Linked DNA regions of Homo sapiens: region 2 is linked to region 1. The links come from fine-mapping of genetic effects on gene expression. A gene starts in region 1. The other region holds a variant in brackets. All regions are shown on one strand. Distances are from middle to middle. Region 1 holds the start of ASPA (aspartoacylase). Region 2 overlaps TRPV3 (transient receptor potential cation channel subfamily V member 3).

The links.
Region 2: its variant is fine-mapped to the expression of ASPA in adrenal gland (GTEx, PIP above 0.99).

What each region holds. Positions count from the first base shown.
Region 1 is chr17:3,473,662-3,479,042 of GRCh38, reverse strand. ASPA (aspartoacylase) reads right to left here and starts at 3,046. Exons shown (of 6, transcript NM_000049.4): 1 at 2,648-3,046. The coding sequence starts at 2,883. It also overlaps a transcript of SPATA22 not described here.
Region 2 is chr17:3,510,847-3,516,227 of GRCh38, reverse strand. TRPV3 (transient receptor potential cation channel subfamily V member 3) reads left to right here. Exons shown (of 18, transcript NM_145068.4): 17 at 1,556-1,635; 18 at 2,217-5,381. The coding sequence ends at 2,311. It also overlaps a transcript of SPATA22 not described here. Among named protein-coding and RNA genes, the nearest start is that of ASPA, 38 kb to the right of the region's middle. The variant T/G (reference allele first, on the strand shown) is at 3,213.

The DNA of each region.
Region 1 (5,381 bases):
AGATGACAGGAAGGGTCAGAGCAAGTCTGGATGCAGAGAGACCCTTTAGGAGGCTATTCTAACTGTCCACAGAGGAAATCAACTAAGGTAGTAAAACTGGAGAGGAAGGCTGGATTTGTGAAGTACTTGCAAGGAATAATTGGGAGGACTTAGTGACCCACTAGACGTGGGAGACAAAGGACTGGGAAGGTTCTAGGGTGATTTTCACAGGGGACTTGGTGGATAATGATGCCACCACTGAGATGAGGAATATAGGAAAATGAATAAATTTGGGAGAGGCAGGATGGGAGAAGTTAATTAGTTTATCTATTTTATAATTTTTCAACCACGCTGGGAACAGTCTAGTCTCTGAACAGTGTTAACAGTAAGGAGCAGAAAGTGAATTTAAGTGAAAAGACTGTGCTCACTGAAATGCATACTACTGGGTGCTCATAAACTCACCCCAGTCCATTTCACACCTATTTGGGAAGTTAATATGCCGACTAAAAGTTATCCTTCAACAAATTCTTACTTGTAATATAGAAGTTAGTTAACAGCTCTCTTAGGTCAATAGATAAGCATGAATTGTGTTGACATAACCTCAGTCATGAAGATAAAGCATTTCTCAAATTAAAATTTATGCTAGTAAAAATATGATTTGATACAAACAGGATGACTGCAGTATAATTGCCCTGAAAAACATCTATTCCATAAAGTGAGGCATGTTTCTATTAAGAGTAGTGTCCATGTTTTGATCTGTGTTGAGACTAAACCTAAGGAGTGATCTAACTCAAATTAGAGTTGATCAGAAAACAAGCACATAGAACAGTGGCTAGTTGTGCCTGTGCATATCTTATATATATATATATTTTTTTTTTTGAGACGGAGTCTCGCTCTGTCACCCAGGCTGGAGTGCAGTGGCACCATCTCTGCTCACTGCAAGCTCCGCCTCCCAGGTTCACGCCATTCTCCTGCCTCAGTCTCCCGAATAGCTGGGACTACAGGTGCCCGCCACCATGCCCGGCTAATTTTTTGTATTTTTTTTAGTAGAGACGGGGTTTTACCGTGTTAGCCAGGATGGTCTTGATCTCCTGACCTCATGATCTGCCTGCCTCAGCCTCCCAAAGTGTTGGGATTACAGGTGTGAGCCACTGTGCCCGGCCATGTATCTTATATCTTAGCTAGTAGTCTACCAACTCCTTGAGGGGTAGAAACCAAGTTGTATAGAGCTGTGTACTCCCCCAGTACCTGGCACAGTTTCCTGAGAAAAACAGATGTTTCAGAATATTTTTTAGTAAAAGAAAAAAAGCGGCCCAGCGCGGTGGCTCATGCCTATAATCCCAGCACTTTGGGAGGCTGAGGCAGGCAGATCACCTGAGGCCAGGAGTTTGAGACCAGCCTGGCCAACATGGAGAAACCCCGTCTCTACTAAAAATACAAAAAATTACCCGGACATGGTGGCAAGTGCCTGTAATCCCAGCTACTCGGGAGGTTGAGGCAGGAGAATCACTTTAACCCGGAGGTGGAGGCTGCAGTGAGCTGAGATTGCACCATTGCACTCCAGACTGGGCAACAAGAGCGAAACTCCATCTCAAAAAGAGAAAGAAAGAAAGAAGTGGTAAAAAGCAAATATGTGGAGTCATATTATATCCACAGTGGTAGCTATTATGATGTAAACGAAGGCAAAAATAATTAATAAGGACCTAACCTAGCATGTTATGACTGCTTACGTTGTATGCAATATATTACAAATCAGCAAAATATAAGCTCTGAAAATTCAGATGGTGTCTTTAGTTCTCATCTCTGGTATCCCATCTACAACAATCCACCATGGAAGTTAAGTACGTCTGCTACTTCGGATCACAGGGAGGTCTGATGTCTTTATTTTTATTTATTTATTTATTTTTTTGAGACGGAGTCTTGCTCTGTCTCCCAGGCTGGAGTGCAGTGGCACAATCTTGGCTCACTGCAAGCTCCGCCTCCCGGGTTCACGCCATTCTCCTGCCTCAGCCTCCCAAGTAGCTGGGACTACAGGCACCCGCCACTACGCCCGGCTAATTTTTTGTATTTTTAGTAGAGATGGGGTTTCACTGCATTAGCCAGGATGGTCTCGATCTCCTGACCTCGTGATCCGCCTGCCTCGGCCTCCCAAAGTGTCTGATGTCTTCTGACAAAAGATATTTAATCACGCTTTCATTCAACAAATATTACTTGAAACATTACATTTTTTGAACTAGAACTTTATGCATTACCGTAAGCATAGTTGCTTGAAAACGTAGTGAATTTCCTAAAAAGCTAACAATTTTATATGCAAGCATAGTGGCCAAACACTAACTCAATGCAAAGGAGTATTAAATCTGTTTCTTTAAAGGTATGATTTTAAAACAAAACCCTTTTCTATTTATTGTCTCAGTCTGTATACATTTGAAAAGAAAACTTAATAATCTGGTGCTTAAGAAGGTTTATAAAAGAGCATGTGAATGCCCAGTTTAGATAATTGTGCAATTCACAATGCAGTATAATTAAAAGTGAAAGTGATCTTATTCAACATACGACTGCATGTACGGACATGAATTATCATCTGCATATACATATATGTGTTCTCTTTCACACACCTACCACTTTTCACACAACATACATACATATACAATACAAAGCATAGTCTTACCCAAGATTTTCAAGGTCAAAAATGCGATTCAGGTCACAGTCAATATATCTGGTACACTTCTTCACTGCTCTGGGGTTAGTAATAAATGGTTTTACCTCCAGCCCTGTTCTCTGAATCTCAGCGCCATTCTCTAGCCAATGCTTAACCAGAAATACTCCGGTTAGCTCATTCCCATGGGTTCCTCCAAAGATAGCAACCTTTTGTATATGTTCTTCAGCAATGTGACAAGAAGTCATTTCACCAAGTAGTTTTTATCTGATTTCTGCAATTCAGAAGAGAGATCAAAGGAAATTCGATTTTCTTAAGAAAGGTTTAGAAATGTAAATGAGACTTTACCCAAAGGGCAAAGTACAGAATTCCCTTGAGTGGAGTATATTTTAATTTTCTGTTACAAGTTCTGAGCCCCGTTTATGGACACTCCCTTCTTTAGCCCTGCCCTTTGCCATATTTGGATTAAAATATGCAAAGATCAACTAGAGATACAGCTGTTTACTTTAACTTCTAACTCCCTCAGATGGTCAGTAGATCTAAATACAGTAATAAATTAGCATTTCATACTAATACAAAAATTCCATTCTTTTCCTCAGCTAGGATGTCATCCAGTGAGGCTTTCACAATTATCTGTAATAATAAAAATAGTTTATACGTTTCTAATTTCACAAAATAAAAAAGTGGCCCACTCAGTATTTCCACGGGCATTTCAAAACATTTCTTCTCTGAAATGAGTTCAAGCACTTTTCATGATCTGAGGGCATTTGAATCTCACCTCTATAAACAGCCAAAGGCTGACCCTCAGAGACCTCCTCTTGAACCGGCGCCCATTCTTTCAGAATGCTTTTTCACAATCAGAAACAGAAGGGCCAAATCAATGATCACTTGGGACTCGAAAAGCTACCCTGAAACATCCCTTCATTTCTTTCTCATGAGGTTTTTGGTAATTCTGTGTTAACTTACTTATGAATCTTCCTCATTTTTTGCCTAAATACCAAAGGAAAGACAACTGTTAGTACTTTTCAAGTTTTTGTGATGCCTGAAAATGTCTTGGGACACACTGCATGTGCTAACCACATCATGTGAACTTACATAGACACAGCCTTATTCACTGTCAGCGGGGACTCTCCACTGGACTGTGTTACTCAAAAAGGGGTCTTATTAGGGGAAATTTTCCAGAATACTAAGATGATTACATCCCTTTGGAGAAATGACTCTGAGCCAAATCTGATTTGATTTCATGCTCAGTCACCCAGAAAGTCACATATGTTCAAGTACTGGGAATACCATGTACTAGTAACGCCAGGTTGTTTGATAGAGGGTACAATAAGAGTAATTTATTACAATTGCAGAGTTTAATTTATAATGTCCTTTCACTCAGTTTATTCATACATTAATTTTATACGATAGGGTGGGTTAGGTGTTGACATCCCCACTGCAGGGGTAAACGAAAGAGAGGTTAAGTAACTCAGTTAAGGTTCTGCAGGGATGTAGGAGAACCTAGGCCTGAGACCCATGTTTCTCATCCCAAGTCTAGTGTTTTTCACAGGACAATAGGGTGCCTCTCTGTTATTTTTGGTCTTCTTCACAGTTCTAGTTTTGCTCTTTCAGAATTCACATAAACAGCCATTACAGTGTGCTCAGGAAACAAACATGCATACAAACCAAATACATGGTGGAAAAATAAAATATGAATGCTTCCTAATATTTAATAAACCCACTGAATGTTCTTCCTTTAAGAGCTTATAATGCAGAGATAGAGAAAGCAAAATAACCACATCAAATCTATGCATTAAAATGACTGTTCTAATAGAAAAAAAAAGCTCCTGTAGGCTTTGACTGTCTGTCCACATCCATGTACACTGAACACTTCAGACGGTGTAGAGATGATGAAAACACACGTAAAAGTAAACAGATGACAGTTGTTTAGTTGCTTTGGTTTTAAGAGCAGTAACCATGGTGAATTATTAACACTCTACTATGCTTGGTTTCTTTTCTGCTGATTTGTAGTTTGTTCTGTCCTTTGCCCTAGTCTCTCTGGAAATGCTGCTTCAGTTATTTACTCGTAGCTGGCACAAATGACTTGCATTTTGAAGCTTGTTTTATGGAATTTTAACAGATCAGCACTTTGAAGCACATTTCACATTCATAAATAAAGTTTCTCTTACATGTCAAAATGAATAACTTTTTTGAGAGTTAATGAATTGCAGCAATTATTTCCCATACTTACCTTGTTTTTTGTGTACAGAGTTTGTCTTCTGTGGAAAGCTTTATTAGGAAAAAGGAGAGCATTTCCTCAGAAGTAGAGCAACAGAGGCTTTTCATACTCTTATACCAAGTTAACTTCCGAAAGATTTTTAACTCCCTGTTTCCCAAAGTGTACTTGATTTTTGGGATGACCCAAAAAACCACACTTTTTTATTAGTTCTCAGCGAACTGATAGTATACGAAGTGAAACCCTTTCGAATTGTCACTATCTCATTATTAAGTTGAATATATAATATTCTGAAGTACTTAAAAGAGTAAGCATAACTTCCAGCATTACAAATGTTTTGTGGGATAGAGTTGCCTGATGTATTAATAAAATAATGTAGTTTAAAACAAAAGGATGCCAGGTGTGGTCTCATGCTTGTAATCCCAGCACTTTGGGAGGCCGAGGTGGGCGGATCACCTAAGGTCAGGAGTTCGAGACCATCCTGGCCAACATGGTGAAACCCCGTCTCTACTAAAAATACAAAATTAC
Region 2 (5,381 bases), 37 kb before region 1:
CTCCCCTCTCTGCATTTTTCTTTCTTCTTTTATTTTTTTTTGAGACGGAATTTTGCTCTTGTTGCCCGGGCTGGAGTGCAATGGCGCAATCTTGGCTCATTGCAACCTCCGCCTCCCGGGTTCAAGTGATTCTCCTGCCTCAGCCTCCCGAGTAGCTGGGACTACAGGCATGCGCCACCACCCCTGGCTAATTTTGTATTTTTAGTAGAGGCAGAGTTTCACCATGTTGGTCAAGCTGGTCTCAAACTCCTGACCTCAGGTGATCCACCCACCTTGGCCTCCCAAAGTGCTGGGATTACAGGCATGAGCCACCGCACCCAGCCCCTCTCTCTGCTTTTTTGGAGGTGCCTCCATGGTCTCTCTGTGTTCGCTATCTGGTTTAGGGAAGATCTGCCTGCTGGGTACTCCTTTTCCTGCTGTTTACCCTGTGTGAGTTCCTGTGACCCCGGGTGACTTGAGGCCCCTTTTGCCCCTGGCAGATGGAAAGTGACGTGGCTACTTTGACAGATCTCTGGCTTTTTGCATTTTTTTTTTAAAGTCCTTACATATCCTATGACCACCTTTTCTTTTCTGTTTTTTTAAAAGGAGTTCCAGGCTGGAGTGCAGTGATGCGATCTCTGCTCACTGCAACCTCCGCCTCCCTGGTTGAAGCGATTCTCCTGCCTCAGCCTCCCCGGTAGCTGGGACTGCAGGCATATGCCACCACGCCTGGATAATTTTTGTATTTTTATTAGAGACGAGGTTTCATCACGTTGGCCAGGCTGGTCTTGAATTCCTGGCCTCAAGTGATCCACCCCCCTCGGCCTCCCAAAGTGCTGGGATTACAGGCGTGAGCCACGGTGCCCGGCCCCATGAACACCTTTTCTGATAAGCCCACCTCCTCCTACCCTGACCCAACTGCCTGAGCCTACAGACCACCTTCTCGGAGTATGACCATACCTTAACCCACTTCTCTGACTGAAACCGCGCCCCGTGGAAAGCATCATTTCTGACTGCAATCATTACCCTAACAAACAGTTGTGATGTTGCCACCCTCACTCTAGAGATGTTCTCTGGGTGTGAATTGAAGTCACATCAATGCCTATGGTTGTATTCTAACACCTCAGACGCCACCCACTCTTGTTGGGGCACTGACCCTAACCACAGGCTCTTCGTGCTTCCTCAACCCCTGCTACACTTGGAGTTTAATCTTCACACCCTCGTGGCCCGGGCCCTCCCTCTGTCTGTCCCCGCTTCCCCTTGGGCTGTCACCAGTCAGGCACAGCAGCTGTTGTCTGAAGTTGGACCCTTTACACCTGTCTGGGCAACTTGCAGGATTTCCGAGTTCCCTACAATGGAAGGAGAACTGATTCTCTGAGGCCTGGGGACGTGGAGATGGGGATAGAGTTCAAACTCCAACAACTTTGGTGTGACCCCTCGGGTCAGGGGTGCTCCTGATCTCTAGGACAGACAGAAGGGGAGCTGTGTAGACACCAGGACGTCCCAAACGCAGGGCTATTTGTTAGTACTCAGTGAGGCACTGGTGAAATAGTAAGAATGATTATCACATTTGCAGGATCAATGAGGTGAAGTGGACTGAATGGAAGACGCACGTCTCCTTCCTTAACGAAGACCCGGGGCCTGTAAGACGAACAGGTACTGTCGCTGTGAGGTGACATGGTGTCCGCTCCTGTCTCAGACCATGTAACCTTGGGCAGATCAAGTCTAAGGGTCCTGACTTTCCCCATCTGTCAAATGGGAGGGTTGAATGGAAATGCTTCTTAGGTCTCTTCCAGCTCTGACTTTTAGAACCCTAGTTGGCACAACTTTTAAAATGGCGTAGCCCTAAGCCATAGAAACACATCATGCAGGCCGGGCGCGGTGGCTCGTGCCTGTAATCCCAGCACTTTGGGAGGACGAGTCGGGTGAATCACCTGAGGTCAGGAGTTTGAGACCAGCCTGGCCAACATGGTGACACCTTGTCTCTACTAAAGATACAAAAATTAGCCGAACGTGGTGGCAGGTGCCTATAATCCCAGCTACTCGAGAGGCTGAGTCAGGAGAATTGCTTGAACCTGGGAGGTGGAGGTTGCAGTGAGCTGAGATCACACCACTGCACTGCAGCCTGGGTGACAAGAGGGAAACTCCATCTCAAAAAAGAAAAAAAAGAAAAAGAAAAAAGAAACACACTATGCAGAGTGATATATTTCTAAAATATATATTTTTTTAAAAAGCAGATTTCAACAAAATCCAAGATTCTTCCAGGAACAACAGCAAAACCACTCTCAATGCATTTGAAGAAGTCGAGGAATTCCCGGAAACCTCGGTGTAGAAGCGGAACCCAGAGCTGGTGTGCGCGTGCGCTGTCTGGCGCTGCAGGCGGAGTCACCGACTCTGTGCAGAGAGGCTTTGAGGGATGGTGGAGTCCGGCTCTGCTGGCCTAGAAGCAGAGTGCACCCTCGTGCTCAGTGCTCAGTGGGTGTCTGAACTGAGGGGCAGTTGTCAATTTGTCTGAGTGGGAAACATCCTGGATTTTGTTACTTGGCAAACAGCTGGTGTAAACCTACAGCCAGCAGCAGTCTGGAGCCTGGGAGCCTCCTGAAGTCCCGGGTGAAGCCTCTGGTTTTACCAATTGCAGGTCGGCTTGGCTGGGAGAGATGGATGGCGGGAAAGGGGCAGCAGTCTTGAGGAGCAGGGAGAGGAGTCTTTCCTCCTGCCAGCTTCCCCCGTCAGCCCCAACCCCAGCCCACACATTGTACCATCTCTTCTGCTGTGACTGGGTTGCCTGAATTTGTGGGAGACCCGTGATCCCATCCCAGAGTGTGCGGGGGACGGAGGTAAGCTGGATATCCTGGGGGAGGAGGGGAATGCGCTCTGGAAACACCCTTCCGGAACCCTTCGGGGAAAAGGAGACCATCCTTGGAGTGAACGTCCCCTGACACCCCAAGGTTCAAACTGTCTCAAGCTGAGAGATGTTTTTAGTAGCAGAATTAACACAGGGTTTTAACTTGCAATACGGAAAAGACATTTCAGTTGAGAATGAAAATTACTACAATGAAGTTTGTGATTTTAAAAGTGGAGACAGACTGGGGGCTTTGGGGCTGGATGTAAGTATTATATATTTGGCCTCAGGGTGCCCAGAGCAAGACAAAAAGCTTTTCTTCACACACACAAAAGTCTGCATGAGACACTCCGGGCAAGTCCTGCTGGGCCGCCGCGATCTGGGTGAAAGG[T/G]CCTGGCTCTTTTCCTCGTCCTGACCTCACAGTAGCGCGTGCCTGTGTGCTGGGATCGTGGCTTTCGCTGAAGCAGAAATAGCAGCTGCTCGATCGATATCATCTTGGAACTCAGCAGTTAGTCGCATACCTCAGTATGTCTCAGTGGGGGAATTTAACAAAATGCCTCAACTGCTTTGGTACGAAGTATTTTTTTTTTAATTTTAACTGTGAATTTTGAAGCTGAAGGGGAAGCTTGTGAGAGAAAAGCATTTGCCAAGACTTTGAGCTTATTTTTAGGTCCTCGTCCTCTGATGTTCTCTTTCTGAAATGACACGGAGTCAGTCTGGGGGGCAGAGGTGAAGTGGAGACGGAAGGATTTTCCAGGTGACTGGGGCCGAAACCACCAGAAAATCCACTCTGCCGCCGTTATCTGGTGAAAGGATTCATGTAAAAATGTTCGAGGTGGAATTATAAAAATAGTAACCATAAATGTTAATCTTAAATGGCAGAAATAGAAATTTGGCCTTCAGATAACATGGCGATAGATAAGTTCATCTGGCTTGAGGCAAACTGAAGAGTCGGGGCCTAGCAGTGCACTCTGGGCCAGTTTCTCTGCCCTGGGCCACTCTGTGTGCCAGACTAGCTGGACAGATAGAGACTTTGTGCCCCTGATGGGGCCGATTGGGGAGAGGTGGGCTGGGGTGTGTGAGGCTTCACAATCCACAGCAGCCCCTGCCCTCCCAGCTGACCCAGGGAGTAATCGCGTGCTCTAAGCCACAGTGGTCGGGGCTGGGCATGGGCCTCTGGAGAAGAGAAGATTTGAGGAGAACTGTCCTAGAGGCAGGAGGAGCAGATGTGTTTCAGAATGGGCAGAATTAGGAAATTGAGAAAGATTTTGGCTCAACAGAATCCAGCAACTGCTCCAGATGTTGGAGATGTTTAAGCAGAAGCTGGTTGCGCACTTAATGAGGAATGTTGTTGAAAATGGTCATTGGAAGAAGTTTAAGGTCCCTTTTAGCCTGGAGATTGTACAAATCAGCATTCCACATCTGGAGTTAGCTACCCGCATTAAGCCTGAACAGACATCTTGGTCTGAAAGGAAGTGGTTTGGATTCATGATGCCAAGCTCCACACTATGGAGCTGGGAATTCCAGAATTGCTTTGACTCAGATATTAATGGAGAAAGTCATATCCATTAATGGATAAAGCCGTATCTGTTATGGATAAAGCCGTATCCAGAGTTGCTTTGACTCGGATGTTAATGGATAAAGCCAATTATTGATTTCTATTTGCCTAACCTGCCAGCTTTTGTCCAAGTGGGGAATGGAGAGCCATAGGGATGTTTGTCATCTCACATGTTTTGGTGATCTGCTGTCTGTGGGTCTGGATGGAATTTGTTGGCAAGACCATTTTCTGTATTGGATATTCTTCCCAACAGTGTCCACCCCAAAAGGCTTTCAGCCAAAACGTCTGAGCCTAGGTAGGTTTACCAAGGGAAGCCATAAGTCAAGAAGCATCAGAGTGAAAAGGAGCACTTCCTTCATTTTACGCCCAGAGGCTAATGCTCCGAGAGGAATGTGTACTTGGGCAAAGTCATGCAGGAAGGTCATATCAGAGCTGTGGAGGCTGGAGTGTCCTGATTCTTGGACCACAGATGTCTCCCTGAGCCATTATTTATTTATTTTTAAAAAGCACAGTTATTCCATCATTTTGAGTCTTTGTATTTCGCTTATATTGGGGGGCAGGACTATTTTCTCAGGTGTCTCATTTGGCAGTCAACATTGTCCCCTATGTTCCCTATGACTAGTTGAAAATTCAAGTGTGCCCACAGGGGTGCACAAAACCACACCCATGCACACACACACCCTCAGCCCCCACACACACCCCGTTGAACCCGTGGGTCTATCAGGACATCCTAAAACTCCGTGATTGACATTTCAGTAATTTCAGGGGAAGGTGTTTTCCAGGGATGGGGTCTCCCAGGTTCAGATAGTGCCTTTGGCTGCAAATGCTCCTTTAGCTAAACTTTTCCTCAGGAAGAATTCATTATTCTAGACATTATGTGATATATCTGTTAGGAATAAAAGGTGCTTAACCTTCCTCCCTGGGATGTGGGAGAAGGTGCTGGAGGTTGTACTGTGAAGTCTTCAGGCTCTTAGAAGGCTCCAGCCTGAGAGAGCCCTTTAT